4 linked regions of the Homo sapiens genome follow. The protein of the gene in region 1 interacts with the protein of each later gene in a pairwise test. Each region holds a gene or a part of one and is shown in the gene's direction. Other genes may lie near its edges. The genes, in order: KATNAL1, PGAM2, KATNB1 and KATNBL1.

Region 1 (7,030 bases):
TGGCTCGCGCCTGTAATCCCAGCACTTTGGAAGGCTGAGGCGGGCAGATCAGGAGATCAAGAGATCGAGACCATCCTGGCCAAGATGGTGAAACCTCGTTTCTCCTAAAAATATAAAAATTAGCTAGACATGGTGGCGCACACCTATAGTCCCAGCTACTCAGGAGGCTGAGGCAGGAGAATAGCTTGAACCCAGGAGGCAGAGGTTGCAGTGAGCCAAGATCATGCTGCTGCACTCCAGCCTGGTGACAGAGCGAGACTCCGTGTCAGGAAAAAAAAAAAAAAAAAGAGTTGTGTGTATGTGTTTGCGGGAGGAGCCTACAAATGAGACCCTAGTTAGGAGGCATAGAGGAAGAAGAACTGGGAGAGAGCATAACAAAGGAGGGGAAAATAAGGAAAGAAAGTAAGTTGTCTAATTTTGTGTCTCCAACTTATTTTCTGCATGATCATAGGCAGGTCTCCAAATCTGTACCCTTATTTCATATGAGGTGTTAATACTATTTATTTGATTTTGGGAAGTTGAAACAGTTTAGTGGAGGTAAACCCTAAAGTGCTCAACAACTGAAAGCATTTCTTCTCCCACTTCCTTACTAACAGTGTGGCAGGACTGCCAGTTCTGTCTGATAGAAAGGCCCTGTTCTAGACTTTACTTGACCATATTAAGCAGGTGGATCAGGTAGTAGTTATATTACAAAGTGATGATTAGAGTCTGAGGACTAATCAATTTTTTAAAATGAAGCTTCCGTTAATGCTATAAAATGTTATTGTATAGGGCATTAATACCAATGTACTTTTGCCTTGTTTTCATCTTCAAAGAAACAGGAAGTTCCACTAGATAATATGAGAGCTCAATGGCTCTAAAATTCTTCAATTCTGACAGTATTTAATGTCTGGACTGATTTGTGATTTCACTGATATTTGAGCATCTGTAAATGAAAATATGTTTATATTTTAATGTGCTCAAGAGTATTTCATTTTATTTTTATTTTTTGGAGACAGGGTCTGACTCTGTCACCTAGGCTGGAATGCAATGGTGCAGTCATAGCTCACAGCAGCCTTGAACTCCTGGGCTCAAGCAGCCTTCCTGTCTCAGCCTCCCCAGTGGCTGGGATTTCAGGCATGTGGCCACACCCGGCTCAACATTATTTTAAACATTTTTCTCTTCAGTGATAACTATACTTATATATGGTAGTCCCAGGGAAATTGTGCCCTAGAATACCTGATAAAAGTGAGATATGGGCATTTGCCAGATAAATTCAAGGCATAGATTGTGAGAGTAGTTTAAAAAAAATGGAGTAGTTTTTCAAGGTGGTTTAATCTTCACTGGATGTCTTTAGATATGTTTCTTTTGCTGGGGTATGGTTTGATTGTGGTCCTAACTGAACGGATGGCAAAGGAGTAAATGACCTTTTAAGTCCTTTTGTAACTTTGTTCTGTCCATTAGTAATTGTAAAAGCTCCTATTAGGCAGCCTATTAAAAAGTGAGCTTTGGTTTGAAATCTTATTCTTTTTAATATTTTGCTATGAAGCTGTTTTTAGTGAGCACTTTTTATAGTTTTTAATCATATCTCAGTATTGTTTTGCATTTTGTAAAGAATTTAATGCTTAGTTGCTGATCCCCCAATTGTATTTACTTCCCAGGGTATTATAGAACTCTTTAGAATGGTTATTTTGTGGACATTTATCAAACACATGTGCCTTGCATTTGAGTTCAAGAAACATTATTGTGTGTCTTTATGTCAAACAGTGCACCAAATGATACATGATACATGAATAAGATCTGGCCCCTCTCTCAAAGGATGTTACATTTCAGTCAGTGCTCAAACTAGTTTTGGTATACTCACTCTTGTGTTTTTTAAGGAAATCATCTCCAAAAAACAATGTATTTTATTTCTTATTTTCTTAGCTTTTACGTGTTTGAGGGACAAACAATATAACTTCATTTGCTGTATTTCAATAAGTTGTTCCTTTATTCTCGTTTATTCCTGTCTCTGTGAGTGTCTTTATATGTCAGTATTCTTTTCTTTCTGATGTTTTACTCTTTCCATTTTTCCTGGTGATTTGGCAGTAGGAAGAGAAATGAATGAGAGAATCAGTAGTGACTGTTTTTTTTTTCTGACCTACTTCTGTGAGAGTATGGATGACTGGTATTTAACACATAATTCCTGATATTTTTATACTTGTATTTTCTCTGCATTATTAGATATTATTTGAAGTCAAGAATTTTATGTTAGTGAACTCCACGTGGCCTTACATTGTTTCTTATATGTATATAGGTTATTTGCTTAATGTGGTAGGTGCTTACTAATTAGTTTAGATTGAATGATGAATGGATGAGTAAGTAAATATGATTATAAAATTACTTGTTCAAAGACTACTTGAGTCTGGGTGTGGTGGCTCTTGCTTGTTATCCCAGCACTTTGGGAGGCTGAGAGGGGCAGAAAGCTTGAGTCCAGGAGTTTGAGACAAGTTGCCTGGGCAACATGGCGAGACATCATCTCTGCAAAAAATACAAAAATTAGCCAGGCGTGGCTGCGCACACCCGTGGTCCCAGCTACTCAGGAGGCTGAGGTGGGAGGATTGGTTGAGACTGGGAGGTCCAGGTTGCAGTGAGCTGAGATTGCACCATTGCACTCCAGGCTGGGCGACAGAGTGAGACCTTGCCTCAAAAATAAATAAATACATACATACATACTTCATAAAATACAGTAATATGAAGCAGATGGTTTTGAAAGGTTTTAGGCTGTTCAAAGCACTATGAAATTAAAAAACAAGTAGTATTTAATTATATAGGCAACCACAACAAAATATCTTTATTTCTGTTAATAAGCCTTTTATATTTATTTTTAGATTAGCTGCGTAACTTTAAAGGAATTTGAGGCAGTAAATTGTAATGAGCCAGGAGGACAGGCTCTGAGTTAGACACATCTGGGTTCAAATCCAGGCTCTATGGGCAAATTATTTAAATTCTTTAAAGCCTCAGTCACCTCCTCTGCTAAATGGTGGGTAACTGTTACTGTTTTGTAGTGTTATAAGGATTAGATGAGATAATGCCTAGAAAAACATTTTTATCGTATTACTTGGTGGGGAGTTAGCATTCAATAAACATCGCTACTATTATTTTTGTGCTAAAAAGGGTATTTATGCAATTAGATAAAGTTTATAGGGTTTTTTTTGTTTGTTTTTTTCAGACAGAGTCTCACTCTTGTCGCCCAGGTTGGAGTGCAGTGGCGCCATCTCGGCTCACTGCAACCTCCGTCTCCTGGGTTCAAGCTTCTGCCGCCTCAGCCTCCTGAGTAGCTGGGACCACAGGCACTCGCTACCACGCCCCGCTAATTTTTGTACTTTTTTAGTAGAGACGGGGTTTTGCCATGTTGGCCAGGCTGGTCTTGAACTCCTGACCTCAGGAGATCCGCCTGTCTAGGCCTCCCAAAGTGCTGGGATTACAGGCGTGAGCCACCATGCCTGGCCAAGTTTATAGTTTAAGCTGTCATCTTGAGACACAGTAACAGATGATCCACATTTTCTGTCCTTTGTAATATTTTAAAGCTGCCAGTAGAATTTAGAACATGAGCAGAAATTACTGTGATGGTTACTTTTGAGAAACGTTTAAGCTCTTAGAACCCTATATTAGTATCTAGATTCTTTTATGTTTATGAACAGTTTTTTTTTGTTTCTAAAATATTTGAGAAGTGATTTGTATACATGTAAAAAATAAATGAAAAGCCTTAATTACTACATACATTCTTCTGTAATGTCTGGGTTTGTGGTTGTTTTCTTTATTATTCATGGCAAACTGTAGTCCTTGAGACTATTACCCAAAATAAAGAGATGGGAGGTATTGTGGTTTTCAAAATTAACTATTTGGTTGATTAGTACTCACATAGTAGGTTCATTTATTGTGCTTGAAACATACTTCAGGATGCATTAATTTGAGAAGTCATGGTTATGTGTTTCCTTAATTGCTTTTATTTATAGCAGCCATTGTATGACATAAACTGGACTTCGGTGATTTGGAGAAACTTTTTTTTTTTTCATTAAGCATGTAAAGCCTGGACATATTGATAAAATTCATTGTGGTACAAAATATTGAAAATAAAACTTGATTTGTTGTTTTGCTTACCACTGTTCTAATTAGTGTTATTTAGTTCACATTGCTATAGTTCAGGTTACTTAGGTGTTTCTGAAATAGGCATCTACTTTCAGGAATTTACAACTTTTAGGAGGAAAAGGAACAATAGGAGAAAAATATGGAAGTGTCAGAATAAAAATAGTTTAAAGCAGAAATTATTTTCTTAGCCTCATATGTATTGTAAGTATAACTGAATTAGATTGACATCATTCACATAAAATTAGTTTAAAAAATGTTTTGTTTCCTCTTCAAAAACCATTACTGTGGAGACAAAAGAATGATAAATATTATGATTTCATTTGTAAAAGGAATTATGAGTGACATCCCTGGTGGGATTGGGTTCTGGATACAAGCTAGCTTTTCATTTTTTCAATTATATGTCTTAGTCTTGGCATGAGATAAAAAATTCAAGTATGTTGGGAGAGAATGTGTGTGTGTGTGTGTTGTGGGTGATGGTAGATTTAAAGGAGAGAACAGAAAGGTTGGAGATGTAGCTGAAAAGATGGCTTTATGTGTTACATTTAGATCTGAGTCATGAAACAGTTACAAAAATAATTATCTGGAACCAGATAAAGCAGTATTCCTTCTTGATCTGAGCATGAACTTGGACTGAGCTCTTCTCAGTCTGAGCCTAGAACTCTCCTTGAAGGTATTATCTGGAGCATTCTGTATAGGGCAACTTTGCTGGGTCAGTTCAGCAGTAAATACTGTAAGAAGATGCTTAATTTATTTTTGAATACATAATCTCAAAATAAGAGACATTGTCAAATATTAGACATTGCTAAAATATTTTGTCTTTAGATTTAACCTGACATTTTAAAAAGACCTAGAAATTCTTCTAATTTATATTAAAGGAGATTTAAAAAACTATGTTTCAAGATTATGACTAAAAATAATTTTAGTATAGCTTCTAGAAATTTATAATGAAAATTGAATCAGTTGATTTCTTTTTTTCAGAGGAAAAATTAACTGCTTCAGTTATCTGCATTGATGTTGAGTGTAGAGTAAAAATATTCCTTATATTGATTCAGTGTTGTATGTGAGGAATGATGTTAACATATGATCACATTTAATTTTTAAAATAACCTTATGATAAATATTATTTTTCCTATTTTGTAGACAGAATTGAGGCTTATTGAAATTATATGATTTGCCTGAGGTCACAACTAAAAATTTATGGTGCCTGGATTCATATCCAGGCTTTTCTGTCTGAAATTTTTATGTGGCCTTTATCAAACATAAACTTGAATGGTTTGGTATACAATTCTAGGTTGCCAACCCCCTACACCCTTACCCCTTGGAAGATATTATTTCATTGTCTCCAGGCTCCCACTGTTCCTCTTGAAAAGTTAGCTGTCAATATAATTTCTTTCCTTTGTATATAATTTGTCATTTCTTTCTGTTTTAAATGTTCTTCAGTCTTACTACCTTGTCTCTAGGTGTGAACTTTGATTTGCTTTGAAACTGAAAATTATTGTCTTCTGTTAGTTTTGGAAAATTCTCAGCCACTGTATTTTTGAATTTTGCCTTTCTTTTTTCTCCTGGAATTCATAATAGACATACATGATGGATCTTCTCTTTCTACTCTGTTGCATTTCTTAATCTTATTTACTTATTCTCTATATGCTGCATTCTGGTCAGTTTCTGCAGCTCTGTCTTCTGGTTTATTGATTCTCCTTTTATCTGTGTCTAATCTCTTGCTTCCTCAGTCCACTGAGTTTTGTTTTTATTTCAGTGACTATATATTTTAATGCCAGAAGTTCTTTTTGATTATTTTTCAAATAAGCTTATTTATTTTAAAATTTCTTGTCCCTATGTCTTTAAATGTACTTATTTTACAGTAGCTAAAAAGGCCTTAATTTTGCTTTATGTTGTATTAATTCTCCCTCATAGTGGATTGCTTTCTTTGTATCTTGTAATTTTAGATGTAAACTCAGTGGAAATAAAGTAAAGCCTGGGTAAATGATATGTCCTGTACTTTTGTGATTTGTTTCTGTGAAGTGCGCTATGGAGAACTGATGAGTGAATAAACAAATTTTAGTATGTCTATATAATGGGATACTACTCAGCAATAAAAAGTAATTACTGATACATATAAGGGCATAGTTGAATCTCAAAAGCATTATTCTAAATGAAGGAAATCAGAGTATATACCATATGAGTTTATTTATTTTGCATTCTAGAACTGACAAAACTGCAGGCATACTTGAGAGATACTGTGGGCTTTGTTTCAGACCATTTTGGTAAAGCAAATATTGCGATAAAGCTAGTCACACAAATTTTCTGGTTTCCCAGTGCATATAAAAGTTACGTTTACACTATACTATAGTTTATTAAGTGTGCAATAACATTACGTCTAAAAAATGTACATGTCTCAATTTAAAAATACTTTAAAAATTTTTAACTTTTATTTTAGATTTAGGGGGTACATCTGCACGTTTGTTACATGGGTATATTGCATGATGCTGAGGTTTGGGATATGAATGATCCCGTCACCCAGAGAGTGAGTGTAGTAGCCAAAAGATAGTTTTCCAACTCTTGCCTGCCTCCCTCCCACCTCTATTAGTTTCCAGTGTCTGTTGTTGCCATCTTTATGTCTAGGAGTATCCAATGTTTAGCTCCCACTTATATGTAAGAATATGTAGTACTTGGTTTTCTGTTCCTGCATTTATTTGTTAAGGATAATGGCCTCCAGCTACATCCATGTTGCTGCAAAGGGCATGATTTTGTTCTTTTTTAAGACCATATAGTATTCCATGGTATATATGTACCACGTTTTCTTTATCCAATCCACTGTTGATGGATACCGAGATTGATTCCATGGCTTTGCTATTGTGAATAGTGCTGCAGTGAAGATACGAGTGCATGTGTCTTTTTGGTAGAATGATTGGTTTTCTTT
Region 2 (7,758 bases), on another chromosome or scaffold:
GGAAATCCAGTTGTCCCAGCACCATTTGTTAAAGATACTATTCTTTACTCATTGAATTATTTTGGCACCCTTGTCAAAAATCAATTAACCATTGTGTGAAGGATTTTTCCCTGGACTCTCAATTTTTGCATATGTACTCATAAGAGGTTGGTCTGTAGTTTCCTTAGGTTGTTTGTCTGGGTTTGGTATCAGGGTAATACTGCCCTCAGAGAATGAGTTGTTACCTTTTACTTCAACCTACTTGTATCCTGTTATATTTAATGTGAGTTACTTAAAGACAGCATATAATTAGGTTTTTATAATCCAAACTGATAATATGTCGAATTGGCGTGATGAGGCCATTTATGTTTAATGCAACTATTGAAATGTTTGGCTTTAGATCTACCATTATGTTGTTTTCTGTTTGTTCCCTGTTTTCCATTGCTGTTTCTTCTTTCCTTTTTTCCTTCCCTCCTATCTCTCCTTCTCCCTATACACACACACACACACCCCCAACACACACACATAGTGGTTGTTCTAGGGGTTCTAATACACATAGTTTTTTTGTGTTTTTTTTTTTTTTTTTTTTGGAGATGGAGTTTCGCTCTTGTCGCTCAGGTTGGAGTGCAATGGCACAATCTGGCTCACTGCAACCTCCGCCTCCCGATTTCAAACAATTCTCCTGCCTCAGCCTCCCGAGTAGCTGGGATTACAGGCATGCACCACCACACCTGGCTAATTTTGTATTTTTAATAGAGACAGGGTTTTGCCATGTTGGTCAGGCTAGTCCCGAACTCCTGACTTTAGGTGATCCACCCACCTTGGCCTCCCAAAATGCTGGGATTACAGGCATGAGCCACCCTGCCCGGCCAAATACACATACTCTTACAGTCAATTTAGATTAATGTTTTGCCATTTCAAGTAGCATGTAGAAACCTCACTACCATCTAGGTCCCTTCACCCTTCTCCCCTCATGTTCTAGTTGTCTTACATCTGTATACACTGAAGCCTCCATCAGACAGTATCATGACTTAATTCAACCATCACATAACTCTTAAAGAAGTAAAGAATAGTTTCATATTTATGTGGACTTTTGCCATTTATGATGTTCTTCCTGCATTCCCAAAGTTTTGAATTGCCCCCAGTAATCTCTTCTGTCTGAAGAACTTGGTTTAACATTTTTTTAAAGCAGATTCTTTGGTTATGAATTTCCTCAGCTTGCCTTCATTTGAGAATGTCTTTATTTCATTCTTTTATTCCAGTAAAATAGAAATTTTTACTGGATATAGAATTCTTGGGTGACAGTTATTTCAAAACTAAAAATGTTCCACTTCTTTCTGGCCTCTATAGTTTCTGGTGAAGATCCAGTCTTTCAAAGAATTGTTCACCTGAATGAAATGTATCGTTTTTCTCTGGCTGATCTTATTTTTCTTGGTCTTTAGTTTTCAGAAGTTTCTTTATGATGTGTCTAAGCTTGGACTTTTGTTGTTAATTTATCCAGTTGTGTGGTTCACTGAGCTTCTTGGTTTGTAAGTTTATATCTTTTTCCAAACTATCATCTAATTTATGGACTCCATGCTTTGTCATTTCCATTCTGTTTAAGAATATTCACCAATACTTTCTGAAGGCTGGTTATAAATAGCTGCTTTGAAGTCTGTATCTGATCATTCCAATAGTTGAATCATCTCAGGATGGGCATGTATTGATCATCTTCTTTTCTCCCATGTTAAGATTTTCCTGGTTTTCATACACTGGGTTATTTTGGATAACCTGGATATTTTAAATATTATGTTGAGACTCTGGACCTTGTTTAAATCCTAAGCAGAATGTTGACTGTTTAAAGTGTTTGCACTACTAGTCATATTAGTCCTGTATCTACACCGGTCAGTCTGGGACCTGCAATGTGCATCTAGGGTCAGCCCTGTGCGCAGCTTGGCAGCAAGCCAATGACTTCACATATCACTTTATCGGATCACTCACTTCATCTCTCCCTTCTCTGTACTCTCCCTGAAACACAACAGCTCCCTGCAACATCCCTACCAAGACCTCCAGCCACAAATCTGGGGCTCTTTCCCTACCTACCCTGCTGCATACTCCCTGAAACTGCATCCAGGGCCCAGCGCAGGGGGGCAGAAAGGAGCTGCAGAAGGTGGTTGCCCCATGCTTTTGGGGCCATGGCTCCTCTAGACAGAGGGTAGCGTTACCCTCTCAGGTTTCAAGTGCGTACCCAGCTCACACTACCGTCACTGTGCCACCACTGCCACCTCCATGTTACTGCCCAGGAGCTGGGGTAGAGAAGAAAAGAAAAATTGGAGGGATTCCCCCAACTCACTGACTTCGAGGGGCTTCACATCCCACTCCTCTGATTCTTCCTGGAGCTCTTTCTGTTGGTGCACTTGAGGTTTCAAGCCGCCTGTGTGTCCAGGCTAGGCAATACTTGTTACCTCACCACTTCTCTGCGGAACTTTGAATCTGATCTCCTTTTCTTATCTGTCTACTGACAGCTGCTCCTGCATCTGTCCAGGATTGGTGGCTGTCAGTGGGAGAGACATGGGAAGATGCTCCCTCCACCTTCCTGGGACCACCTTGTTGACTCAGCAGCCTTCCTCGCCGCCCACCATGCTATGCCTTCCTGGATGGAGGCCCTGAGGGTGGCTTTTGGTTTTCCTACCCCTGTACCCCTCCAAGAAAGCTCTGGCACACTGCAGAGGCCAGCAACTACTTGTCAAATGAATCAAAGGAAAGTCAAGCCGGAGCCAAGGGTCAGAAGCAGGGGCTTGCTTCCCCGAAGTCCAGCCCTTCTTTGGGCTCCCCTTTCCTTTTTGACACCTCCTGCTTGGTTGGCAGTGAGGTCTCCCAGGTCTGGGGGATCCTTGCCACTGCTTCTGCACCCAGCCCTGGCTAAGCGGCCTTGTTCTCATCAAAGCTGCCGAGACCTGCAGGGTACTCAGCTTCTACTTCCACTCCTACACAGCTGCAAGTGACTTGAAAATATGACCATGCTTCAAAGTCTCCAGTGATTCCCACTGTGTTGGGACACAAAGCCCACCTCTCTGCCATGTGCCCCTGATGGTCGCTGCCCCAGCTTGTTTGCTTTCTGTAGGGCTTGGGTCTTTGCCAACCCCTCTACCTGAATTGCTCTCCCTGTAGGACTCATCATAGCTGAGGCCTTTGCACTCCGCTCTTTCCACTCACATGTCACCTCAGGGCTGTCCCCGGCCTCTCCTTTCCCATCTCTCCCAGTACATTATGGTCCTTCCTTCCTAGCATCTGGTGCTATCTACGGTAGGCATGTTTAGCTGCTGGTACGATCCCTCCTCCACTGAAATATGGGCTTCATGTCTGGCCCCTGTGGGACTGCCAGAGCCTGGTCCTCAGTCATGTTTAGTTGGGCTAGTGAATCAACTCTTGGTCAAAGGGACAAAAGCAGATGAGGAGATGTGGCTTCAATCAGGATCAGTGTGGAACAGTGAGACCTGCGCATGGCACTGCTAGGAGGGATGGGTTCCACCTGCCAGCCTTGGGGGTCCTGGCAGCCGACAGGACTTTGCCCACTGGGACTTGTCTGCCAACCTTTGGGTACAGAGCCTTAGCTTCACAGGCCCCAAGCCAGGAGCCCCTCCCCAGGTAGGCCAGCAGGGATGGAGGGAGGCCTGTCGAGGGTTTCTTGCACACTCAGATCCAAGTCTCAGAGTGGTGGTCCCTCTGCTGGCCTCTCACCTACCCGCTCCTGTTATCAGAAGTGTCGCAGGTGACAGTGTGGTCACTGGGGTGGGAGGAAATGGGAGGCCCTGGATGGGGCCCATGCCCAAGGGTCTGGCCATGGCCCCTTCATTAGGGCCCCAATTGTGACTTTATTGCTCATAGTCTCTTCCCTGCCTTGGTGGCTCTCATCCCCCAAACCTGAATGCAGAAGTCTTGGTCCTAGACTCAACTCCGTGCCACCCTTCAGCCTACGTTGTGGGTTCCTGCTAAGCTGAGCATTTACCTAACAATCAAGACTTCTGACAGTCCTCAGTCCTGCCCCCAAACCCCCTTGGATTTCTCTTTTTCAAGGTGGTTTCGGCTAGGAGAGTGAGCGTGGCTTGGGTGAGGGCAGATAGGGTGGGAGCATGGGGCATGTATGGATGAGACCTTGACAAAGGGACCCCGGAGGAAAGACAGGGGCCCTTTCCCCCTTTGTCCTGGAAACCCGGCTCAGCCCCAGCCCTTGCCCATTCTGCTGCTGCTGCCTGGTACCTTCCACAAGGCCAGACTCCTCTCCACAAAGCTGTGGTCTGCACCAGCTCCTCTGGCTCTCCTCCTCTGCCTGCTGAGGGCCGCCTCCTAGCCTGGCTGCCAATCACAGGAGAAAGGGGTTGGGATTTTGTTTGTGCCTCTGTCTGAGCAGAGAATGGCTGATAGGCCACTGAGCGTTGCCCTGGAGAGCCCCTCTGTCCCTGCTATCCCCATCTCCCCTGGCCCAGACTTCTGCCCTTCACGCCCATCCCTGACCAGCAGCCCCACTCAGTCTGGGCTCTGGGTGCCAGCTGGTTATAGACATGCCACCTGAACCCAGGCCAGGAGCTGGTGGATGCGTGGGGCTATTTTAAGCACAGCCTCTTGGCCTGCACACTCCCCTGGCCCCCAGCCCCCAGCAGCTCAGCTACTGGTCACCTGCCACCGCCTGGAATGCTGATTGGCAGTTGGCTGGGGTGGGTGGGGGCTGGGAAGACACTATTATAAAGCTGGGAGTGTTGGGAAGCAGCCGTCCCCGTCCAGAGTCCTCTGTGGTCCCTGCTGCCACCATGGCCACTCACCGCCTCGTGATGGTCCGGCACGGCGAGAGCACATGGAACCAGGAGAACCGTTTCTGTGGCTGGTTCGATGCAGAGCTGAGTGAAAAGGGGACCGAGGAGGCCAAGCGGGGAGCCAAGGCCATCAAGGATGCCAAGATGGAGTTTGACATCTGCTACACGTCAGTGCTGAAGCGGGCCATCCGCACCCTCTGGGCCATCCTGGACGGCACGGACCAGATGTGGCTGCCTGTGGTGCGCACTTGGCGCCTCAATGAGCGGCATTACGGGGGCCTCACAGGCCTCAACAAGGCAGAAACGGCCGCCAAGCACGGGGAGGAGCAGGTGAAGATCTGGAGGCGCTCCTTCGACATCCCGCCGCCCCCGATGGACGAGAAGCACCCCTACTACAACTCCATTAGCAAGGTGGGCTGCCTTTGCTGGGAAGGCCTCTGGGAAGCTGCAGAGTGGGGAGTCGGGTGGGGGCCCACTGGCTTGGGAGGGAAAGCAGCGTGCCTGTGTCCCCCAGGAGCGTCGGTACGCAGGCCTGAAGCCCGGGGAACTCCCCACCTGCGAGAGCCTCAAGGACACCATTGCCCGGGCCCTGCCCTTCTGGAACGAGGAGATTGTTCCCCAGATCAAGGCCGGCAAGCGAGTGCTCATTGCAGCCCACGGGAACAGCCTGCGGGGCATTGTCAAGCACCTGGAAGGTGAGGCCACCTTCAGGAGCCTGGGCAGGGTGGGTGGGCAGCAGCCCCAGCTGGCTTCTCATCTCAGCAAAGTCTCTCGCCCATGGACCAGGCTTTCTAGGCGTGGGGCTCCACATCATTCACTGAAAAAGGAGGGCTGAGAAGCCATTTTTTAGTTTTGTGAAATTTTCCCCATTTCTGTGTAACTGGGACACACTCCACAGGGGCTGACTGCACTCGAAGCTCGCTGTGTCCCGAGGTGGGGCAGGCTCCAAAGGTGGCATCTGCCAAGGGACACCCAGCTAGGAAACGGAAGGGCTGGGCTTAGAGCATCTGGCTCCAAATCCCAACTTACTGTGGGGCCCTGGACAAGCCACCTCCATCTCTGGGCCTCTCCCTTTTCCGGGGTGGTGGGGAGCTCCCCCTGGTACTGAATTCCTCTTGATGTAGGCTTGGACCCCTCGCAGGGCCCTCCCCCATCAGGTCCTCAGAATCCCTGCATGAGCTTCACCACCTATCTCCCTCTGGAGCCCCTCTCTGGGCAAAGGAAAGACCAATCAAAAGAGGGGTGCAGGACTATGGAGTGGCCAGACTCTGGGCTTGCAGCTGGGCTCCCACTGAAGAGCAAGGGCTGACAAATGGGCCCGGGATGCATGGGCGCAGTAAGGCCTCGCCCAGAGTGACTGGCACCTCCGCTCCGCCTCCCACCTTAGTATTCTGACACAAGGGCAGTCTAAATTAGCATCTGAATGACCTTAAAGCTTGTTGAGTCCTGGAAAGGCTAGAAGGGTGTGCCCCAGACCTCCTGCTCCTAGGGCCGTTGGGCAGTTGGCCAGAGCACCCAGACCGGCAGGCCCCGGAGACCCAGCCAGCCCCAAGCCTGCCCGCTCCAAACACGGACACCTGGCACCTGGCACTGGGGCCAGGCAGAGGGAAGGACCACCTGCCTCCTCTCCCTTCCGGAGACTTCATGCAGCCCCATGACCCTCCCACAGCCTGGTTTGGGGAAAGGGGACGCACTTTTGGTGGTGAATATGAGGGATTTCACTCTGACTCCCCAGAGAACATTTTCTTAAACCCTCCTGCACGGAGCAGGGGTGGAGTGGCGCGAACATCAAAGGTCGAGCTGCTATTCCCAGCTCAGGGGCTGCAGGAGGCAGGCAGGGTCAGGTTTCGACCAGGCTCGGCCTCCCTGTCCCTCCTCCAGCTCCATTCCGCACTTGCTCCTCTGTTCAGGATGTCTAGAATTTAGAGCACTTTAGAAACCAAAGGGTGCTGGGCACGGTGGCTCACTCCTGTAATCCCAGCACTTTGGGAGGCTGAGGCAGGCAGATCACCTGAGGTCAGGAGTTTGAGACCAGCCTGACCAACATGGTAAAACCCGTTTCTACTAAAAATACAAAATTAGCCGGGTGTGGTGGCGCTCACCTGTAATCCCAGCTACTTGGGAGGCTGAGGCAGAATCACTTCAACCCAGGAGATGGAGGTTGCAGTGAGCCAAGATCGTGCCACTGCACTCCAGCCTGGGCAAGAGGAGTAAAACTCCATCTCAAAAAAAAGAAAAAGAAAAAGAAAAGAAAAAAAAAAAACAAAGGGTGAGTGTCCCTTCCTGACCCTCAACTTCAGTCTGGCTGGAGTCACACTGGGCTGAGGGAACTATGGACAGCACCACCACAGATCACAGCCACTTGGGTGGGGCTGAAGTCCCCATTTTTTTCACCACTGGGCTATTTCTGTAGGCTGCTTGGTCTAACTCAGTTACTCCTTGACCTTTGGCAACATTTCTGTGGCCTCGTTCTCAGGGCTGGGAAGGAATTGGTGCCAGGGGAACTGGCTCTGTGGACCATAAAGGTCACATAGTGTCTGCTGTGTAAACAGGCTGGGGACAGAGGGGCTAAGGACACCTATTCCTTCCGGCATAGGGATGTCAGACCAGGCGATCATGGAGCTGAACCTGCCCACGGGGATCCCCATTGTGTATGAGCTGAACAAGGAGCTGAAGCCCACCAAGCCCATGCAGTTCCTGGGTGATGAGGAAACGGTGCGGAAGGCCATGGAGGCTGTGGCTGCCCAGGGCAAGGCCAAGTGAGGGGTGGGCTTGGGCAATAAAGGCACCTCCCCCAACAGCCTGGAGTCCAGCGCAGCCGTGCATGCCAGGCTCACACCGCCATCAGCTGTGGGGACTCCAGAACCAGGGGTGCAGCCACCCACCCTCCCCCACTCCATACGTGTGTCACCAGGGGCAGGAGCCTAGTACCCACACCTAGTCATCAGGACACTGAGCCAGGGCTGCAACCACTCCATGAGTTTGCAGT
Region 3 (5,005 bases), on another chromosome or scaffold:
TGGCCCAGGAGCGTCCTCTTCAACCCAGACGGCTGCTGCCTGTACAGCGGCTGCCAGGACTCACTGCGTGTCTACGGCTGGGAACCTGAGCGGTGCTTTGATGTGGTCCTCGTCAACTGGGGCAAGGTGGCCGACCTGGCCATCTGCAATGACCAGTTGGTGAGAGAGCCATGGCACCCACCGCCCCCCACTCCCACAGGGCCACCCGCCTCCCTCCAGCCCAGGCCCCTCCTCCTACCCCCACACTGGGGCTGGGATTTTGCCCCCTCGGCTTGCAGTCCCAGCCCCACCTCTCCGCTTTCTGCAGATAGGTGTGGCCTTCTCCCAGAGCAACGTCTCCTCCTACGTGGTGGATCTGACGCGTGTCACCAGGACTGGCACGGTGGCCCGGGACCCTGTGCAGGACCACCGGCCCCTGGCACAGCCACTGCCCAACCCCAGCGCCCCCCTCCGGCGCATCTATGAGCGGCCCAGCACAACCTGCAGCAAGCCTCAGAGGTGAGGGCCTGGGGGGCCTTCGGGGGCCCAGGAGAGGGACTGTCACAGGGGAAGCCTCGGAGTTCCAGCCCTGGGCCTCACAGGGCACCTGCTTCCGTTGGGCTTGGCCTCACGCTCCCAGGGTGAAGCAGAACTCAGAGAGCGAGCGCCGCAGCCCCAGCAGCGAGGATGACCGGGACGAGCGCGAGTCCCGCGCGGAGATCCAGAACGCCGAGGACTACAACGAGATCTTCCAGCCCAAGAACAGCATCAGTGAGGCCGGGCTCCCGCCCCCAGCCCAGCGTCCCCATCGGTGAAAGGGAGGCTGGGGGTCCTTCCAGGGTAGCCTGCTGTGGCTCCGCATCCCTTTAACTTCCTCCTAACCCACACCTGGGCTCCGTATCCTGTCCTCACGTTCCCTGGGCCTTGCCAGGCTGTGCTCTGATGGAACTGAGAGGGGGGCCTGGGCACTCCCCAGCAGCGGCCCAGCAGCTGCTCAGTGTCCCAGTCCCTGCCCTGCCAGGGACAAGTGGGCTGGGAGGGGCAGGACTGAGGGTTCCTGGGACCAGGAGCAGGGTCCACAGTCTGCAGCCGCATGCCTGGGAGCTACCCTCCGTCCCCCGCACTCTGGACAGGGCCCTGGGTCCCAGGTGGCCTGGCCAGGAGCGCTCACAGCCAGGGGCCTCTTTCCTCTGCAGGTCGGACGCCACCCCGGAGAAGTGAGCCCTTCCCTGCACCCCCAGAGGACGGTGAGTTGGGTGAGCCTGGTTTCCCAAGGTCTCTGATGCCCCCCCGTCCCTCATCTTCTCTTCCTGTGAACCCTCCCAACAAGCCCCTTCCCAGGACCCTCCCCTCTCAGGACACGACCCACACCCTCTCCCGCTGGGTCTCTGCCCTCTGCCTGTTATGTGCCAGGTCCCTGCAAGACCGATAGTGCCCCCGTAGGAGCCTGTGCCCTGGTGTGTGGGGGACAAACATGGACACCACCACACTGGGGGGCCTGCCAGGGGCACTCGGGCTGTGGAGGATGGAGAGGAGTCACTGGGGGCCCACCTTAGATGGGGTCTGCTGTAGACGGGATGATCGGGAGGCTCTCAGGAGGCCCAATGCCTGTCAAGGCCTGGGGGCCAGTGAGAAGAGAGAGAGAGAAGTGCTTCTGGCAGGAAGGGAGCTGAGAGGAGGTGAGCTGGGGCGAGTCCCAGCAAGAGGTCAGGCCCACAAGGCCTCAGCTGGGGGTTTGGATTAAGAAGGGAGAAAAATGATCTGCACTGTGGTTGGAGAACGGGCAGGCATGGGGCCACCTGTCCTGTAGAGTACCCCTGCCCTCCCCTCAGGGACCGTCCTTGCCGTCAGTCCTGGCTTTCCTAGGAGCCTCCACTTCCATCTTGCCAGTCATCCCAGCCCCCTCCACATACATGCCAGTGAAGGGACAGGATGGCCACATCCTAGAGCCCCCTGGGTCCCACCCACAGGCAGACCTAAGGTTGAGTTGGGGGAGAGGGAGGAGGCAGGTCCAGGCCTGCCCCAGGTCCTCTGGAACCCCCACGCCACTGGCCTGCAGCCTCCCCCATGCTCCTGCTCCATCCCCCCATTGCAGATGCTGCCCAGAGTCCCGCCCTGAGCCCTGCCCTTCTTGCCAGGCCCTTCTGGCCGGACCCAGTCATCTTTTCCTTTTGCCTCCAGACGCAGCCACAGCAAAGGAGGCAGCAAAGCCCAGCCCTGCCATGGATGTGCAGTTCCCGGTGCCAAATGTATGTCCATGGAGGGAGCATGGTGTGGGGCCTAGAGAAGGTCCTGACCCAGGGTTGGGGGTGCCTCGGGAGGCAGAGAGGGAGGCCCCAGGCCGGCAACCGCTGAGTTTCACACTTTCAGCTGGAGGTCCTGCCCCGGCCCCCAGTGGTTGCTTCCACACCTGCACCCAAGGCTGAGCCTGCCATCATCCCTGCCACCCGGAACGAGCCCATCGGGCTGAAGGCCTCCGACTTCCTGCCCGTGAGTAGGAGCCCAGCTCGAGGCATGGGTGGAGGTCTGTGGGTGGAGGGCAGAGCTTTGCTGCTGGCTCCTCCCATGCCAGCATCTGGGTGTCCATCCCACGCAGGCCGTGAAGATCCCCCAGCAGGCCGAGCTGGTGGACGAGGATGCCATGTCACAGATCCGCAAAGGCCACGACACCATGTGTGTGGTGCTCACCAGCCGCCACAAGAACCTGGACACTGTGCGGGCTGTGTGGACCATGGGCGACATCAAGGCAAGTGCCCACCCTTGCACAGGGCCTCATCTCGCCCCCCTGCCCCTGCCACCTGCCTGCCCGGGCTTGGGGCAGAACAAGAAGAGGCCACCCATGGGGGACAGTGTGGGATAGGCCATCCCTGACGTCACACCATCTGTTTCCGCCATCATCATCATCATCACAGACTGCCGTTTAGTGAGCATCTGTTTACATGCCTGGCCTTACACTCATTGCGTTAGGTGCAGTGCTGAATACCCACAGCCCCATCAGCACACCCACATTCACGTTCGTACCCCCACCCTCACCCTCACAGGGCCACACTGTCCCCCACTGCCCCACCCCTGACGGTGCTCTGTTTGCACAGACGTCGGTGGACTCCGCTGTGGCCATCAACGACCTGTCGGTGGTGGTGGACCTCCTGAACATCGTCAACCAGAAAGCGTAAGTGGCTGCAGAGGGGGAGTGGGCGGAGGGGCAGGGCTGGGCTGATGGCAGCATGTCCTGGCCTCTCCTAGCTCCCTGTGGAAGCTGGACCTGTGCACCACCGTCCTGCCACAGATTGAGAAGCTTCTGCAGAGCAAGTATGAGAGGTGCGTGTGGGGAAGCCATGCCTGCCTGAAGCAGGGGGAGGGGAGAGGTAAGAAGCCTCCTCCAGAACCATGGGAAGGACCCCCAAGAGCCTGGGTGTTCCTGTGAGCTGGCTGTGAAGCATTGCTGCCCCTCAACAGTCCGGAGGTGGGAGTGGAAACAGGCGTGTGTGGGTGTATGTGTGGGTGTGTCTGTGTCTGTTTCTGCCCCTCTCCTCCTTTGTTCCTTGCTGTTTCTCTTTCTGTCTGTGGCCCTTGGTCCATCTGTGACTTCATCCATCTCCCCCTAAAGCTACGTCCAGACGGGCTGCACCTCCCTGAAGCTGATCCTGCAGCGGTTTCTGCCCCTCATCACAGACATGCTGGCGGCCCCACCCTCTGTGGGTGTGGATATCAGCAGGGAGGAGAGGTGAGGGCAGCGCATGTGTTGGGGGCAGGGGTGCCACAACAGGTGAGGGGACAAAGGCCTGGAGGCCTGGGCCCCTCTTACTGACAGTCCTGCTGGGACAGAGTACAGAGGAGGCGTTGGTCTGGGGCCATGGCTCAGGGTGTGGGTGGGCTTAGCCAGAGCTGGGTTCCTCCATGGCCTGGCTGTGCCCACAATCCCTGGCAGGGCCTGGGTGGTTCCCCTCTGGGCCTCCGCCTTCCCTTGGGAGGAAGGGCTGGAGCAGTTAGGACAGCAAAGGCCCTGGGGTTGGGTGTGGGTGGTGGTGGTGCCAGCTAGCCCCTCAGGCACTGCCCTCTCTACAGGCTGCATAAGTGCCGGCTCTGCTACAAGCAGCTTAAGAGCATCAGCGGCCTGGTCAAGAGCAAGTCAGGCCTGAGCGGCCGCCATGGCAGTACCTTCCGCGAGCTGCACCTGCTCATGGCCAGTCTGGACTGAGGAAAGCAGTGGGCAGGGGCGCTCGGCAGCCCACAGGGCCTGGCCTCAGCCCCCACTCCTGTTCCTTGTGCACCCACTGGCCCATGAGCCTCTGCCTGGCCCCTGCTGCTGTCCTGTGGCCGTCCTGGAGGAGGTGATGCTGGTCCCTGGCCACCTCTACAGCCCTGAACTCTTGAGACAACTCTCTCCAGCAATAGCTGCCCAGCTTTGCCCAACTGTTGCTTCTTGGGGCAGCGAACTGAGCCCTGGGGCTGCTGCTGTAATTTATAAGGCAAATTTTATTAAATTTGTAACTATTCCCAGGTTTCCTTGTGGGGAATGTTTTCTGCTGGCCACAGGGCTCCCCGGGCCCAGGAGTGCCTGCCCCATGGTTTGAGATGAGGCCACACCCCCTCCAAGCCCGGGGGTGGGGCTCTGGGCCATGTGGCCAGCAGGGGGCAGCAGAGAATCAGGCCTCTGGGACAGCACCAGTTCAGCCAGTGCAGACTGGGAAGGAAGGGGAGGCGGCAACCACCCTTCCACCACTGGGTGTTGAGGTTAGGGGTGGCCCCCACCAGCCCGTTCCTCCCCACCTCAGCTACACTCAAGCTGTCTTATGGACACCCCCAGGATGCCTCCAGGGGCAGGACTAGAAGGGCACCTGCCCCTTCCTCTGAGCAGGGCTCCGATCAGCTGTCACTCCCTGCTGGAGTCCCCAGCACTGGCTGGCGGGAAAGGGCTCCCTGCTCCGTGGGCACTGCGACAGGTGGGCCCCCTCCTGCTCCCAAGGCAGGGACCAGGTACAGCCCCGCCCCGGGGTGGTCAGGGTCCTCGGCACTGGAGGAAGGT
Region 4 (7,030 bases), on another chromosome or scaffold:
ATGATCATATCACTGCACTCCAGCCTGGGTGACAAAGCAAGACCCTGTCTCAGGGAAAAAAAAAAAAAAAAGTATTGTCTAGTAACAACAAGATGCATCATAACATTACACTAGTCAGTATTATGTTGATGTTTTATCAATCATTATATTTGTTGATCCATGTTAGTTAATTTGGTGCTTTCTGGAAAATGTATTTAGGAATATAATGTTTTTTAATTAAACACCTTAAACCTAATACAAATGGTACTTTTACTGGGAGCATACACTTTTTAAATTGGAAGGGTGTAATTTGACTTTTCTTTTCTTTTTTTTTTTTTGAGACGGAGTCTTGCTCTTGTCTCCCAGGCTGGAGTACAGTGGCAAGATCTTGACTCACCACAACCTCCACCTCCCGGGTTCAAGCTATTCTCCTGCCTCAGCCTCCTGAGTAGCTGGGATTACAAGCACCCACCACCACGCCCGGGTAATTTTTGTATTTTTAGTTGAGACGGGGTTTCGCCATGTCGGCCAGGCTGGTCTTGAACTCCTGACCCAGGTGATCCGCCCACCTCGGCCTCCCAAAGTGCTGGGATTACAGGCGTGAGCCACCATGCCCGGCGTAATTTGACTTTTCTTTGCCAGGTTCAAATGCTGTGTTTACTATTTCTTGCTCATCTAAGTATTTTTTCACTACCAGCTTAATACCCCTTAACTTTGGAGACTTCTGCGTTATATTTACCATTCTTGTTCTTGGAGCATAATGAGGGTAGAAATGAGAGAAAAGGTATTTTGAAAGGACTCCCTTTTTTGCTTCCTGTAACTACCTCTCTCTCCTTCAGTTTTATATACTGTCTGAAATTCTTTTTGCCTTGAGCAAGTCACCCAGAAACCTACCACCTATGTATGAGTCATGAGATGCTCATTCTAGCATCTCCTCTGCCCACTAGCATACTCTTAAGATGCACAGCTTGGTGTTACAGTGGGAAAGGCACTATTACTGTAAGTCGCAACGCTAAGCCTGTTAGTAACTAAGGGTTTTTGGGCAAGTGATTTAATCTCATCTGAAATTATCTCCAAGGTCGAGAATCTATAAAATAGTTACTTATTGAGGGGTGTTCTTTGGTGAGGAGGGAGACCTGTGGGGAAGAGGCCTCTGGATAGTCTTTTACATCTTAGTGTGATTAATCATAGATTATTTCTCCTAAAGGCATTTTTAAAAGCTACTTATATGATAGGATTGAGGAAGAAATCTTAGGATGGAATTTAAAGGCCAGTAGAATATAAGCTTCAGTACAGCAGGGATTTTTGTTTGGTCCACTGATGTTTCCCTAGTGCGTAGAATAGTAATTAGTCTGTAACATGTACTTAATATTTGTTGAACGAGTGAAGAAATGAAGGAATGGGTTGCTGGGGAAAGATAAAATTTGTTGGAGTACTGCGCAGATGCTCTGAGTATCTTGAAGGAATTCAAAATGCAAACCAACCAGAGTACAACCCATCATTCCTACAATGTAAAAATACCTCCCAGCAGTAGCAAAGTGTCTATTGTTCACTTAATCGCCTTTCAGAACTATTAAGCGATTACTGCCCTGGCTGCCCCTCTTACTCACAGAGTAAGATTTTGACCATCACCACATACTTAAGTGCCAGCTTGACATTTCAGTATGCATTTTACTCTTACTTTCAAAAACCTATGTCCTAGCCATTCCCTGTGCTACACTTAATATAATCAATAACAGGACATTTACTGTTGTAGCAAAAATGAATTATATATATTGATTAAAATTTGGCCTTTCATCCATGGAGGATTCATGGCATAGCATTTAAAAACTGGCACTCTTCAGGCACAGTGGCTCATGCCTGTAATCCCAGCACTTTGGGAGGCCTACGTGGGCGGTTCACAAGGTCGAGAGATCGAGACCATCCTGGTCAACACAGTGAAACCCCGTCTTTACTAAAATACAAAAAATTAGTTGGGTGTGGTGGTGCACACCTGTAGCCCCAGCTACTCAGGAGGCTGAGGCAGGGGAGTCACTTGAACCCGGGAGGCGGAGGTTGCAGTGAGCCGATATTGCACCACTGCACTCCGGCCTGGCAACAGAGCGAGACTCCATCTTAAAGGAAAAAAAAAAAAAAAAAACTGTCCCTCTTTGCCTTCCTGTTCCACAACTGCCATATAAATAATCGTCAAGAATAGTTTTTTCACATATAATTCGTATACAAAGTTTCTCAGTAAGTCTATTTTGTCTACAAGATAAAGTCCAAATTCCTGACCTAGCATTCAGGGACTTCTGCATTTTAGCCAACTACCTTTTTATTCTTTTCCCTTACAGTGGCCTGTACTCAATAATTACTTAATTATTGAATAGTTGGTATAGAAAATAAGGAAACAAAAAGCAGTTATTCTTGCCTACAAAGTATGTTTCCAGTTGAAGAAAGTCTGGCAGATGGTTTTTCAAGAAGCCTGTATGGGTGGCATTCATTGTTTGAGTGAATTATCCATTTAGTGAAAAATAGCATTAGAGACAAGAATTCCTTAAAACTCCATGTAAACAGTTTTTTTGATCCTTGTTGACAGACCTGTTGGAAACTAGGTAATACAGTCTACCCTCAGCATCCATGGGTTCTCTGTATGGAAGCCATGAATACGGAAGGCTGACTAGGGGACATGAGTATCCACGAATTTTGGTATCTGAGGTGGTCCTGGAACCAGCCGTACTCAGATACTGAGGGACAACTGTAATAAGAAAAGAATTAAATATGTATATCTAGTGACATCAGTTTACATTGCAAGTAACCACTTAGTGGGACTGACTGAATCATTCTGTGCCCACAGCATTGCTTGAACAGTTCATCAGTCTGGATGGACTAGGTGATTTTGTAGTAACAAACAGCACCCAAATCTCAGTGGCTTATTTCAGAGGTTTATTTTTCCTCAGTTCATGTTACACATGAGCTGTCTGGGCCTGTGCTCCTAGTTTTCCTTGCTTAGCAATGTGGACAGGGGAGTCTTAACTTTCTGGCCTGTTGTTGGTTACCTGTTGATGGTTAGAGGTAAGGTAATGGGAGTGAATCACACACACTGGCTCTTTTTTTTTTTTTTTTTTAATTAAGTTCTGAGGTACGTGTGCAGAATGTGCTCTTTGTTACATAGGTATACACATACCATGGTGGTTTGCTGTACCCATTAACCCGTCATCTACATTAGGTGTTTCTCCTAATGCTATCCCTCCCCTAGCCCCCCACCCCCCAACAGGGCCCGGTGTGTGATGTTCCCCTCCCTGTATCCATGTGTTCTCATTGTTCAACTCCCACTTATGAGTGAGAACATGCAGTGTTTGGTTTTCTGTCCTTGAGTTAGTTGCAGTGAGCTGAGATCGTGCTACTGCACTCCAGCCTGGAGACAGAGCAAGACTCCATCTCAAAAAAAGAAAAAATAGATACCAGAATAAGTGTATCTATTCTAGGTACAATGAACATGGTTCCTGCTCTCATGGAGCTCACAGTCTAGTGAGAGGTCATGGGCAATAAGTGCATAAGCTAATTTCCAGATGGTGATAAATGTGGTGGGGGAAAAATACAGGGTACTGCTATAGAGAATGATTGTAAGTGAGGGTGGGGTTATTCTTGATTGGGTGGTGAGTGTGTGGGAGGAATATTTTAAGCAGAAAGAATGGCTCAGCCACAAAATGGAAATAAGTTTGAAATGTTGAAGGACAGAAGGCCAGTGTGGCTGAAGCATTTAGGAAGCTATTATATAGTCTAAAGGAGTTGGTGGTTTGGTCTAGAATGGTGGTAATGGAAATGGAAAGAAACGGACAGCTTGGGAATATATTATAAAGGCAAAGTCAACAAATTGGATGTAGGTTATTAAGGAAAAAAGAAATCAAGGATGAATCCTTTATTTCAGGCTTGAGAAATTGGAAGGAGGATGGTTCCGTTTACTGAGTTAGGGACTGTTGGGAGGAGCAGATTTGAGAGGGGGGATATTAAGGGTTCTATTTTTAATATGTTAAGTTCAAGAATAGATGACTATTGGATATCCATGTGGAGCTGGCTAGTAGGCAGTTGGAGATTTGAATCCAGAGTTTAGGTGAAACAGTATGATGAGAGATTTTATTTATTTATTTTTATTTTTTTTGAGACAGAGTCTTGCTGTCGCCCAGGCTGGAGTGCAATGGCGTGATCTTGGCTTACTGCAACCTCCGCCTTCCGGGCTCAAGCAATTCTTCTGCCTCAGCCTCCCCAGTGGCTGGGATTACAGGTGCCTGCCACCATGCCCAGCTAATTTTTGTATTTTTAGTAGAGATGGGTTTTCACCGTATTAGCCAGGCTGGTCTCGAACTCCGGACCTCAGGCAATCCGCCCACCTAGGCCTCCCAAAGTGCTGAGATTACAGGCGTGAACCACCGCGCCTGGCCGAGATTTTATTCTTAAATGAAAGTTAATATGTTAATTTTTGTTATAGTTAAGTCTTGGACACAGGAGTCATATTTTCTTGAGCCTGCAAGTGATTCTTCTGTTGGAGAAGAAAGTGTTCCCTGAGAGAGGAGGCATTTTCAAACCTTAATATACGTTCTGATTTCAGCCTAGGAGATATGGTGGTGCCCAACCACTGTAACTGTTGGGGATGTAATATAATCCTCACAAGTTTTGGAACATAAAGGTTTAAGAACCGTTGTTATAAAAAGATTTTGAATGTCTCTAGTATCATTTTTGTTAATTCTTAAAGGATGATCTACCCTTTTTTCCAAGGCTTAGGGTATACTTAACCCTGTTGACTTCTGGTACTGTAGAAATTAGGCACAAGTGTCGTAGGGTGGTGACATTAGTCCAAATAATGAAGATAGAGTTTTTTAATTAATTTATATTAGCTCATCATTTTGAGAGTTGAATACTACTTTATTGGTATATCCTCTCATATGTAGAGAGTCTATTGGTTTTGAAAGTATCAGAAATACCTTTAGTAGGCAAACAAGGGTCAAAAATGATCCTTAAAGTGACAATGTTTTATGTATGTATACATTCATCCCTCATTATCTATGGGCGATTGGTTCCAGGACCTCCCAATGATATCACAATCCGAGGATGCTCAAATCCCTGATATAAAGTGGTGTAGTATTTCCACATAACCTTTGCACATCCTCCCATACACCTTAAATAATTTCTAAATTATTTGTAATATCTAGTACAATGTAAATGCTATGTAAATAGTTGTTATACTGTATTATTGGGGGAATAGTGATGAGAAAAATAAGTCTACATATTCAGTAGAGATGTATTTTTTTTCTAAATAGTTTTGATTGGGAATTGATTGAATCCACAGATGCTGAACCCACGGATACAGAGGGCCAGTTGTATATATATTTTCCATTTCTGAGTCCAAGAAGACAATTAAAACAGAATCAAGTATTTTTTCCTCCCTGTTGAATATTTCCAGAAAATACTGGGTTATTCTAACAGGGAAAGTAAATTGGAATTTGGCGAATTCACCAAAACATGCTAGAATAATCATAACCATCTACTTCTAGGCGTAAGAAGTCCTAAGTCTTCCCAAAGATTCAGGTGTTTTATAGCCATTTAAGAAAATATGTATATAATACTCTAATACATTATAATTAAGTTAAAACATACTTGCACATTATACAAAATTCAAAAGGCCCAAAAGGGAAAAGTCTTCTCCCTTCACCCCCTAGCCACACATATCCTCTCACTAGAAGTGACTTTTGTCCCCAGTTTCTCTCATATCCTTCAAAAGATATTTAGTGAATATACAAGTAGTCCCTCACAGACACACACTTTTTAACCTAAGTGGTAACATAGTGTTTTGCTACCTTACTTTTTTCTCCCTACTTTCCAGTATAAGGCATAGTTATGTTTTTTAAAAAGCCTGTGTAGGTCCACAACTATGGATGGTGATAAACATCTACCTAGTTCTTTAATTTTATTTTCCCATTATTAGTCCCAGTTCCCTAATGTAGTAATCTAAGTGGACTTGATTAAAACTGAGGAAGAGGCCGGGTGTGGTGGCTCAAGCCTGTAATCCCAGCACTTTGGGAGGCCGAGGAGGGCAGATCACGAGGTCAGGAGATCGAGACCATTCTGGCCAACATGGTGAAACCCTGTCTTTACTAAAATACAAAAAATTAGCCAGGTGTGGTGGTGTGCACCTGTAATCCCAGCTACTTGGGAGGCTGAGGCAGGGGAATCGCTTGAACCTGGGAGGCAGAGGTTGCAGTGAGCTGAGATGGCGCCACTGCACTCCAGCCTGGCGACAGAGCAAGACGCTGTCTCAAAAAACAAAACAAAACAAAACAAAAACACTGAGGAAGAGGTAGTAGGAAAGCTAATTCCCACTTGGCATCTCTTTTGTAATTTTTATTTCAGGGTATCTCAGTCATAAGAGAGTTGGAATTCAGTTTGATCCAAATTGATTGAAATGATATAGTATTGTACCCACTGAATCTCCAGACATCTGTCTTTATTTTCATGCTTGATCTGCTTTCCCGAGTTTGACGTTATTTCTCAAATCAGCTTACTGTGGAAAACTGAATTAAGAGAAAGTGGTGGGCGGGGCGTGGTGGCTCACGCCTGTAATCCCAGCATTTTGGGAGGCTGAGGCAGGTGGATCAAGAGGTCAGGCGTTCGAGACCAGCCTGGCCAATATGGTGAAACCCCATCTCTACTAAAAATACAAAAAAAAAAAACAATTAGCTGGGCGTGGTGGCACGCACCTGTAATCCCAGCTACTCAGGAGGCTGAGGCACGAGAATCTCTTGAATGCGGGAGGCGAAGGTTGCAGTGAGCCGAGATGGCGCCACTGCACTCCAGCCTGGGAGACAGAGGAAGACTCCATCTCAAAAAAAAAAGAAGAGAGAGAGAGAAAGTGGTGTGATGAATCATCATTCAGGAAATATTAAACCCTTGAGATATCAACTTTGAGTTGTTCCGAGTAGGTGAGAGGTGAAGCCAGCTGGGTTTCTGGGTTGGGTGGGGACTTGGAGAACTTTTCTGTCTAGCCAGAGGATTGTAAATGCACCCATCAGTGCTC

The links.
Region 2: the proteins of KATNAL1 (region 1) and PGAM2 interact in binary tests that used the Homo sapiens proteins (3 or more experiments, as listed by UniProt).
Region 3: the proteins of KATNAL1 (region 1) and KATNB1 interact in binary tests that used the Homo sapiens proteins (3 or more experiments, as listed by UniProt).
Region 4: the proteins of KATNAL1 (region 1) and KATNBL1 interact in binary tests that used the Homo sapiens proteins (3 or more experiments, as listed by UniProt).

Annotation. Positions count from the first base shown.
Region 1 is NC_000013.11:30,297,526-30,304,555, reverse strand, and holds part of KATNAL1 (katanin p60 ATPase-containing subunit A-like 1), read left to right. Parts: intron 1-7,030. UniProt on the Homo sapiens protein: Regulates microtubule dynamics in Sertoli cells, a process that is essential for spermiogenesis and male fertility. Severs microtubules in an ATP-dependent manner, promoting rapid reorganization of cellular microtubule arrays.
Region 2 is NC_000007.14:44,062,538-44,070,295, reverse strand, and holds PGAM2 (phosphoglycerate mutase 2), read left to right. Parts: upstream 1-4,728; 5' UTR 4,729-4,766; coding exon 4,767-5,180; exon of another isoform or gene 5,181-5,283; coding exon 5,284-5,464; exon of another isoform or gene 5,465-7,365; coding exon 7,366-7,532; 3' UTR 7,533-7,569; downstream 7,570-7,758. UniProt on the Homo sapiens protein: Interconversion of 3- and 2-phosphoglycerate with 2,3-bisphosphoglycerate as the primer of the reaction. Can also catalyze the reaction of EC 5.4.2.4 (synthase), but with a reduced activity.
Region 3 is NC_000016.10:57,752,770-57,757,774, forward strand, and holds the end of KATNB1 (katanin p80 WD40 repeat-containing subunit B1), read left to right. Parts: intron 1-8; coding exon 9-159; intron 160-307; coding exon 308-498; intron 499-619; coding exon 620-750; intron 751-1,175; coding exon 1,176-1,226; intron 1,227-2,160; coding exon 2,161-2,228; intron 2,229-2,349; coding exon 2,350-2,469; intron 2,470-2,575; coding exon 2,576-2,725; intron 2,726-3,071; coding exon 3,072-3,148; intron 3,149-3,222; coding exon 3,223-3,297; intron 3,298-3,586; coding exon 3,587-3,703; intron 3,704-4,044; coding exon 4,045-4,177; 3' UTR 4,178-4,475; downstream 4,476-5,005.
Region 4 is NC_000015.10:34,200,079-34,207,108, reverse strand, and holds part of KATNBL1 (KATNB1-like protein 1), read left to right. Parts: intron 1-7,030.